Homo sapiens: one gene and its partner. The protein of the gene in region 1 interacts with the protein of each later gene in a pairwise test. Each region holds a gene or a part of one and is shown in the gene's direction. Other genes may lie near its edges. The genes, in order: CKMT2 and NRF1.

What was found.
Region 2: the proteins of CKMT2 (region 1) and NRF1 interact in binary tests that used the Homo sapiens proteins (3 or more experiments, as listed by UniProt).

The regions. Positions count from the first base shown.
Region 1 is NC_000005.10:81,264,116-81,267,004, forward strand, and holds the end of CKMT2 (creatine kinase S-type, mitochondrial precursor), read left to right. Parts: intron 1-2,023; coding exon 2,024-2,143; 3' UTR 2,144-2,283; downstream 2,284-2,889. UniProt on the Homo sapiens protein: Reversibly catalyzes the transfer of phosphate between ATP and various phosphogens (e.g. creatine phosphate).
Region 2 is NC_000007.14:129,614,658-129,621,969, forward strand, and holds part of NRF1 (nuclear respiratory factor 1), read left to right. Parts: intron 1-7,312. UniProt on the Homo sapiens protein: Transcription factor that activates the expression of the EIF2S1 (EIF2-alpha) gene. Links the transcriptional modulation of key metabolic genes to cellular growth and development.

The DNA.
Region 1 (2,889 bases):
GTTATGTGCTAGGTTTAGATAAGTTTGTGCTCATAAAATCCTTAGGATTCTGTGATGAATATGTAGGATGAAAAGGATTCATAGACTTTGTGTGGCCTGAAACAATGAATGAGGCAAAAAGATCACATGTAAGGAACATGCAGCTGAATGCTAAGCAAATACTGATCATGGTAAGTTATACCAGCCTATCTGGATGTGGTCCCATTGGACATATTATGCCCATCATTAATTTTAAAGCCTCTTCTCATAACAAAACCCTTAATAATTCAGTGACTGGTTATTAAATCTGTGGATTATCAAAGTTCTCTCTTCTTCCTTACCAGTTTTTGAATATTTCACTGCCTATCAATATCCCTACCAGTAAGTACACTGAGGAAAAGGAAAGGAAGAAACCCTCAAAACAATTAGATCAGCCAGTGTGCTATCAGCTCTGGTAAAGTACTTGAGGGACATGTAACTATAATACCACAACTTCTGAAATTTACTGAATAATGTGTGGTGTAGTGAATAAAGAAAATCTGGGAGTCTATCCCTGTTGATTCTAATATTAACTAGATATTTATTACTGGAAAACAATGTAGTTAATGCTTTAAAAATGTTAAGTCTAACTATACTAGGCAGTCACTATAAAAGTGAGGAAAATGCCAAAAAATAATTTAAAAACACCATTTATTTAACCCAACAACCCTGATAACCATTGTGAACATTATTCTAAATGGCCCTTCATTCTTTTTAAAAACTACCCAAAAAACTTGAAAAAATTGTTATAATACATGTTTAATATTATAACCAAATACTGGTTATAATTTTTTTCCAATGCATTATATCATGAACATTTTCCCACAATATTAAGTATTCTTCACAAACATGATTTTTAATCACAGTAAAGATAATCCATTACCTATTTAATGTTTTCCTGATTTTATGTTTGACCATCTCTCTACATAATTCTAATCACAACTCTGGTTATTTAGTTAGGATATACTTCTAGAAAAGGAATTCCTGGGTTAAAACCAGAGTTCCCTATTTATAATCAAGTTTTCTACCAGATTTATACCAAGATAGAGTCCTACTGGCAGTGAGTGAGAGACCTATCTCACCATACTCTCACCAACACTGGAAGGGATCAAAAGGATAAATAGAAAATATGTGTTTTAGTTAGTAGTGACTAACATTCTGATTCAACCCTCTCTTGGGGCCTAAGTTTCCTTATGCATATAAAGAGATAGATAGGGAGGCAGCTGGAGTATGTGATGCCTGAGAGCTAACATTCAATGGTCCCTTCCATCCTTGCTGCTCATTCTTTAGTTGTATAATGTATGTCTGGAATTAACTAATTTCTCTCTTAATTTGGGTTTCCTTGGGGGCAGTACAAGTCATTTGCTTAGGAGGTGATCCCAGGGGAAAAAAAAATTAAGTAGATGTGCTCTGGTTTAAGGAAAACAAATATTTGGAAACCAAAGTTCTATACAGAGTTTTTTAAGAACAGGAATTTTAGAAAGTATATCTTAATTTGCAAAACTCATTTCATTAATAAGCTTGCCTAGCATAGTACAAACATGATTTAGTTGCCAAACATTTGACATTAATTTTTCAGGAAGACACCCACTGTATTAATGATGATATCTGAGCTACATTAGCATATCCAGTGCTCAGATAGATTAGTGGCAGGTCAGAATTCAGATCCAGGCCAAAGAATAACACGAGGGTGTCACTGTAGTCTTACTTCTAGACAAACTCTGATATTTTATAGCAGACACTGGTAGGAAAAAATGTTAGAGATGCAAACTAATGGTTTTCACATAGTAAAAAAGCTTTCACATACAAAGTAGTATCCCCATCTTAACTATGGAAAGATTGAGAGAAACCCTTATATCTCTGCCTTCCATTTCTGAGAAGGAAGGAATTGTTGTGAAGTCCATCTAAGTGGCAAGTTCTCATTTATCACAGTGCTGTTCCTGTTAATCAATGCCCTGCAGATGCTTCTATTCAAATTAATCATTCATCTTCTTCACTGTCAAAGGTTGAGCTTGTTCAGATAGTCATCGATGGAGTCAATTACCTGGTGGATTGTGAAAAGAAGTTGGAGAGAGGCCAAGATATTAAGGTGCCACCCCCTCTGCCTCAGTTTGGCAAAAAGTAAACTTTCCCTTTCCCAATTTATAAATAATCTGTCTGCTGGTACGACAGACATAAATCTCTACTCTGAGAGTTTTTATACACTTGGAAAAATATAAAATTGTAGATCCTGCCTATCTTTACAATAAAACTCTCCTTAATATATCTTTGCTTTGTTTCTCTGATTTTTAAAATAATACTAAGAAGGGCAAACACATCCGATTACAAGTAGACAAGAAGCAAAATATTTTAAGACAATAAAACTAATATTTTAAGTTTTGATTTTGCCACAACTTACACACACCTCTAAATAACCCATTAGCTATCCAGATGTTAGTCAACCCTTTTGGAAATATCTTATGGACCCCATTGGAAAGTGAGAAATTAAATTAATATAATAAGCAATTTTCTGGCAAATGGAGCAAGAGGAGACTTACCTATTGAAAGTGTGGAAATAAAGACTATACAAAGAGAGGCTACTTATTTATTCAGACTTTGCTTTCACAAGGGTGTCAGCTATCATCACTTGCATTTGGCAGAGACATGAGAAATCTTCATGGTGAAAGAAAGGGGAGGCTTCAGATATGCTCTGATTGGGGTTGCAGGCATGGGGAAGTTGGAGACAGGCTACCTAGAAGCGGGGTATGCTATGTGATTATTTTGGGAAGCATATTTGGTTTTATCTGATTGGTCCTGAGTTTGAGGCAGGGGCAAAAATTAGGGAAGCCAGCAGTCATTGACCAAGTCCTGACCATCCTTTACTGATTGTTA
Region 2 (7,312 bases), on another chromosome or scaffold:
AAGAGAAGGAGCTATAGAAGTAGAAGATAATGAGGGCCCTTGTCCAGATATAGAAGGTTTAAAGGAGAAAGGATTTCAGGTTTCCTTCTGAATTCCTGTGTATGTCGTTAGGACCCCAAATTGTAGGTTTTTTGTTTTATTAAACGATAATTATGCACTTGTCTAATTTTGTTAGGGAACCGAAGGCCAACTTCCCATGATTTAAATACCTGAATTTGCATTGCCTGCACACTGTAGGTTCAACCAAATCTCTGGGTTGTCTTTAGAAGCATTTTATGTAAATAATCACGAATGAGTGACTTGTTTTAAGGGAAATTTAAGCTCCTGTGGTCTGGGATTAAATTTTTATGCCTTTTCTTGTATGGAATAAGGCATTCAGTAAAGTTGAAGAATAATAACAATGAACAGTAATTACTGAAATTAAAATTTTTCCCTGAGTATTTGAAAAGGCATGCTGATTTTTTGGTTTCTGGAGGAACTATGAACTGTCAGTCTTTAGAAACAGTCTACAGTCCTACCTCAACAGGAAGTTAATGTATACATTCAGCTTCTGTCAGATGTCTTTAGACAAGCCTGTTGCTTCATGCTGAAGCAGGCTTATTCATTCACACAGTGCCACTGTGAAAAATTGAAGGGTGAGGGGAAACTCCCTGGGCTGTTGAATTTCACAAATGTCTACTTTAACCTCAAGAGTTTAGATGCGCCCTTTCTGGGCCAGTAATCATCTAGGAAATGGGATATCTGAATTTAGATGTTTGTGTGTGACTGTGTGATGCTTATTAATATGTATATATAGAGTATTTGGAAAATCAATCTTAAAATGCAAATCTTTGATTTTGTAAAAAACATTTCAGGAAATGTTCTATACTAAAATACATTTTCTTTATGTTCTTTCATGTTTTCCTTGATAGCTAAAGCTAGTGTTTTCAGCCTGAGCTTACCCAAATATAATTTTCCATGAATGCTTAGTAAAACAGCAATGAAAAAGGAATCCACTTGTTATTTTAGAAACATTTTATTTAGACCAAGTCCAATGTTTTTTGAGTCTCAAGATACATGTTAATTTTTGTGCCTTGTGTATCATATTTCCTTCCTTATTAACTAGAGGGTGGATTACCCACTTTCTTGGGTTTTCAGTTAGTACTTTTATCCATCAGTTTTCTACTAAGGTAAACAGACTGGAAGATAAATAGTAAAAGGAGGTGAAACAAATGAATTTCAGGTGTTTCCAGGAGATTAAAACCATATTGAGCTATTGGAAACTTTTAATCCTCAAGCAACAACAATGCTTTGTTTGAAGTTATTTTAGTGCAATATGGACAAAACTTGGGAAAGGAATTTTTGACTGCTCAAGAAAAATAAGTGGATTGCTTATACCTTAGAATATATATATATACACACACACATATATATATTTTTTATTTTTTCAAAAGTGCACTTCAGAATTGGGCTAATGTATTTTCAGCCCAACTTAATGCAGTGTAGTTAGCAAAACATCCAAAAGGCTTCATCATGTTGTGGTCTTTAGGCCTAAAATGTTTTAAAATGTGAACATTTATGTGATACCAAGTAAACTTTCTATGACCCAAAGAAGGGCTAGAAATAAAACTTTACAGAGATGTTCTAGTATATTAGAAAACAATGGCTGGTTATGGTGGTTCATGCCTATAATCCCAGCACTTTGGGAGGCCAAGGCAGGAAGATTGCTTGAGGCTAGGAATTCTAGACCAGCCTGGGCAATGTAGTGACATCCTGTCTTTACAGAATATTTAAAAAAACAAAAAAACGAAAAACTAGCTGGGTATGGTGGCATATGCCTATAGTTTGAGCTATTCAGGAGGCTGAGGCAGGAGGATCACTTGAACTTAGGAGTTTGAGGTTGCAGTGAGCATAATCATGCCATTGTGTTCCTGCCTGGGCGACAGTGCGACCGTGTTTCTTAAAAAAAACTAGTTGCTGTTAAGGTAGGCCTACCACATTTGTAATCTCTTGAGGCAAATCTGTGTTGTTTCTCTAAGAGCAGTCACTTAGAAGATAATCTGACAGTAAGGAATGGTCTACTGAATCCCAGATCTGGTAGTCTGCCTTGCCCAATCACAACATAGTTTGTGTAAAACTCCAACTGCTACTGAACCATCAGATAATTTCTTGAGGAAGCCGTTTCTCTTAAGGAGAAGTGTGTGTGTGTTGGAGGGAGTGTTGGTGGGGAGAAGAGGGGTAAAGAGAAGATGATACTAGTAAAATAATCTAGTTTTGTAGGTTGGGATGATCACTGGAATTTTTTAGGGGAAATATTCTCAAAAAAAGTTGTAAGAGCTACTTTTGTATGGGTTATCAGTTTGGTGATTTAGACTATAGTAATTGCATTGTTTAATATGCATTGTATTTCGATTAATTCATGCATGCTGATTTCTGTGGTAACAAATGTGAAAAGTTTGGCTGATGGCTTAAGTGGACATTTTCTTAAGAACTCTTTAAGTGGTGCCTGTTGGGATAAACTATGCCAAGCCATTTTCTGAATCTTCATGAAGAATGAGCTTTGTATGCATATATATTAAGACAGTTTTTTTTAAAAAGAGCATGTATTTTACTGTTGGTAATTGTAAAGTTTTTGCTTTTTAGAACTTTAAGAGTCCGTTTTGTTGCTGCTACTGAATGCTAATGTGGTTAGGCTGGCAGCTAAACCTACAAAGAACAAGGGGAAATGAGGAAATGTCCCAATGAAACATTGCTTAAAACTGTTTGCGCAGTGGACTAGAAATGGGGAGTTGGGGACTAGGGGACCTGATTCTTGTTTTATGTTCAAAGGAGAGTGAAGCATTCTCTCCATTAAGAAATAACCTCCTTAAGTGTATTCTCACTTTGGAGTTTTGCCACTCATTCATTCACCTGACGATGATTAAAGATATACCACATTCTGGGCATGTACTAGGTGCTAGAGTAACAAATCTTGGGCCTTGTCGTGTAGAGCAGAAAGGTATGGGCTCAACTAGCTATGTTACAACTTCTAGAGAACCAAAATAGAGCAAACAAAGAGTGGTGTGGGATTATAGGAGGAGGGAGAAATTCCTTCTAGGGAGAGGAGAATGATACACAGAGAAAAGTGAGGTTAGGGAAGACTTTTCACATAGGGGAAGTTTGAGTAGGACTTGGAAGGGGGAGTAGCTGCATTACTGATGGAGAAGAGGGGCTGAGAGGAAGGGCATCAGTAGTCTGATTTGAGAACTAGCAAGTGGATTTTGCTCGACTTGGAGAATAGTGGAAAGTGAAACTGATAAGGTTGTGGCCATATTGGGAAGAGTTTGTAATTCCATGCTCATGAGTGTGAACTTTATTCTATAGGCATTTAGGGACCATAAGAGGTTTGAGTAGGACATCCACTATGGTTTTTAAAAAGATGACATGTAAAGATTTGACTAGAGACTTGTGAGAGTATTGAATTGTGATGTAAAAGGACATCGATTCTGGGGATAATTTTTACTTCACAGTTGTCAGATTTGAGTGACAATTGAGTAAAGAGTTAAAGATTATAGTGTGGTTATTGGGTGATGATGATGCCTTTAAGATAGGGAATGTATAGGAAGAACAGAATTTGAGGAGGAAGGTAATAGAGTATGACTCCAGATGTGTTAAGATATCTGGGAATCAAGAAAGGTCAAGTAAGTACCTGGGTATTTGGGCTGGAGCTCAAGGGGACATTGGGATAAATTAGGGGATTTGCATTCATCAGTATAATGCCATATAGAAACTGCAGAAAGCCAGGCATGGTGCCTCACACCTGTAATCCTAACACTTTAGGAGGCCAAGGCAGAGGATCACTTAAGGCCAGGAGTTCAAAACCAGTCTGGGCAACGTTGTGAGACCCTGTTTCTACAAAAATTTAAAAAATTTGTCAGGTATAGTGGTAGCCACCTGTGGTCTCAGCTACTCGGGAGGCTGAGGCTGGAGTATGACTTGAGCCCAGGAGTTTGAGGCTGTAGCAAGCTATGATAGGGCCACTGCACTCCAGCTTGGGTGTCAGTGTAAGACCCTGTCTATAAAAAAGAAAGAGAAAATAGTACAGATTGAGTATCCTTTATCCAAAATGCTTAGGACCAGAAATGTTTTGGAGTTTTTTTTGACTTTGTAATGTTGGTATGCATATAATGAGATACCCTGGAGATAGGGCCCAAGTCTAAACTTGAAATTCATTTGTGTTTCATATACATCTTACAACCTGGATGCAGTTTTATACAATATTTTAAATAATTTTGTGCAGGAAACAAAGTTTTGATTCCATTCTGACTGCAACATGTCACCTGAGGTCAGGTGTGGAATTTTCCACTTGTGGCATCATGTCAACACTCAGAAAGTTTCAGATTTTGGAGCATTTCAGATTTTAAACTTTTGGATTAGGAATGCTTAACCATATCAGGAGTGAAGAAAAAAAACTAAGGGCAACCTTGAAGAGCATCTACATCTGAGGGTCAAGTAGAAGAATAGAAACCTATGAAGTAAGTTGAGAAAGAATGGCTAAACAGATAAGGTTATAGGGTTGAAGAAGCTGAAGAGAGGGATTAAGTGAATACTGACAGGGAAGTTAGCCGTGTGAAATACCACAGAGTTCATTGGTTTGGAGGGCAATGCCGGAGGATCGCTTGAACCCAGCACTTCAAGACCAGCCTGAGCAACATAGCAAGACCTCGTATCTATTAAAAAAAAAAAAATCATTGGGATAAAAACTGGACTTGGCATACGTGTATATATATATATATATATATATATATATATATATATACACACACACACACATATATATACACGTGTGTGTGTGTGTGTGTGTGTGTGTGTGTGTATATATATATATATATATATATGTATTGTTTTGCTGGGAACCATGATAGTTTAGACAGAATAGATTTCTAGAGCATTACTAAATTCAGGGGTAGGTCCTACAGAATCTAACTTAGTAGAAGACCCATGCTTAGAAATAGGTCCTGTTCTTCCATGTCTCTCTGCAATGGGAGTTGCAGCTTAAATGCTTTGGGAGATGACCCCCAATGACAAGGCTGCCTAAAAATCTCCATATTGTTTGGGTTGTTTTTTTTTTTTTTTGCCTCTTTTACATTGTCTTAAATTCTGAGAATTGGAGATTTCATTTGAGTTGACAGTGTCTTAAAATACAAATAACCTCTTGCAGAGTTTTGAGGTTTTATGATATTAATATGTTAAGTATGGGGGTTTTTAACCTGGGGTTTTCTGGTTCTGGGGTTTATATATTTTGGCTGTGTGACCCTGAATCCCTTAAAATTGTTTGAAAAGTTATGTGTGAGTGCATGTGTGATTTTTCTGGGGAGAGGGTCCACAACATTTATGAGATTTTTCAAGGGGGCTGTTGACACACAGAAAAGTCAAGGGCCTTTACTAAATGTTAATGATTAAATCAAGTGTTGGTTGTGTTCGTTGGCTGAAATCAGTTATCTCAACAAGTGAGACAGATCAAGGGAAAGAAATCTTGAGTAGGTGTCTCAGGTGAAGAACTTTGGAAAGATACGAGGAACTTCTTAGAAATGGGAGTAGGAGCACCAGAAGGAAGGTAGGAGGAATGCCAAAGCAAAGCTTAACCGATTTCAGAATTTTGTCAAGTCTCTGGATTGCTTGGTTTTTTTATACTCTAGGACTGACACTTAGTATATGTTTATTCATGCACTGTAGATACAGTAGGCTTTATGGGGTAGGGGAATCAAATCACTTTTTTTTTTTTTTTTTTGAGATAGAGTCTCGCTTTGTCACCCAGACTGGAGTGCAGTGGTATGATCTTGGCTGACTGCAACCTCCGCCTCCCGGGTTCAAGCGATTCTTCTGCCTCAGCCTCCCAAGCAGCTGGGATTACAGGCGCCTGCCACCATGCCCAGCTAATTTTTTATTTTTAGTAGAGATGGGATTTCACCATATTGGACAGGCTGGTCTTGAATTCCTGACCTTGTGATCCGCCCGCCTTGGCCTCCCAAAGTGCTGGGATTACAGGCATGAGCCACCGCACTGGGCCCAAATTACTATTGTTTTAAAGGGAAAGTGTTTTGAAAGAAAACAAATTGATAGATTGTGCTTGTTGGAAAAAAATTTTTCTACCAAGCTGGCTCATCTGTCAGAAAAAATTCATTTTTAAGTTAGGTGTTGCTTATGCTTTGGAAAAAATTTTAAATGCACAAATATTTCAGTCTAGTGATATGGGGCAAGACATTTATTTTCTCCTTGCAAATTTTTTCTGACCATGAAATGAAAATACCGTTGATGGTTTTTGTAGTGTCTTTCTGAAATATGACGATTATGGAATACTTTGAGATCCAGGATGATTTAATGCTAAGAAATTGCTGGCATTCACATTTCTAAAGTCGTGAATAAAATTAAGAAATTCAAGCACATTATGTGTTCACTAGATCTTACTTGATTTCCAAAATATTTCTTTTTGAAATTTTAGATAATTGGTAATTTTTACTTCCTTCTGCTAATCTTTGCATCTTTGAAATTAGATTAGGAGGCAGTTTTGTCAGCTAGGCCCTAGTTTCTGGGGCAGTGATATCCATACTTTTGCTTGCCACCCTCAAAATAAATTAATGCCACTTGGGATTAATTTGTGATTTTTCTGGGGAGAGGGTCTACAACTTTTATTTATTTTACCAGTAGTCTTGGTAAATACAAGAATGATATGAATAAATATGTTGGGTAATCTTAAACTTGTGTTATGTGATTTGTAATTAGCTTGTGTTTGTGGATGATCTTTACATTCAGTAAATCTCCAAAGAGGGCCCAGATAGAATGGAGTATTTTGTCTTTTCCTTTGGGAACTTTTTTTGGTTCTTTCTTTCATTAAACAATTATGAAATAAAATTTTTGGTAACAGATCTTCCATGTAAAAATAGCCCACAAATCAAAGAACTAGCCAAGATTTGCTAAGTAAGAACACATCATGGAATACCATCATAGAACTAGTCTCTTACCCCAAAACTAGCTGTAGGTGCTAAGTCTAAAGAAGAAGTAATTCTGATATGTTACCAGAATTATGTGGTAATGCGACTGAGTGTTAAAATTGTTGTCTTCTTTAATTTTTGGCTCTATTATTTTAAAAGTTTTTCTCCATAGAATTTTTTTTTTTTTTTTTTTGAGATACTATCTCGCTCTGTCGCCCGGGCTGGAGTGCAGTGGCATGATCTTGGCTCACTGTAACTTCCGCCTCTCGGGTTCAAGCGATTATCCTGCCTCAGCCTCCTGAGTAGCTGGGATTACAGGCACCCGCCACCATGCCGGGCTAATTTTTGTGTTTTTAGTAGAG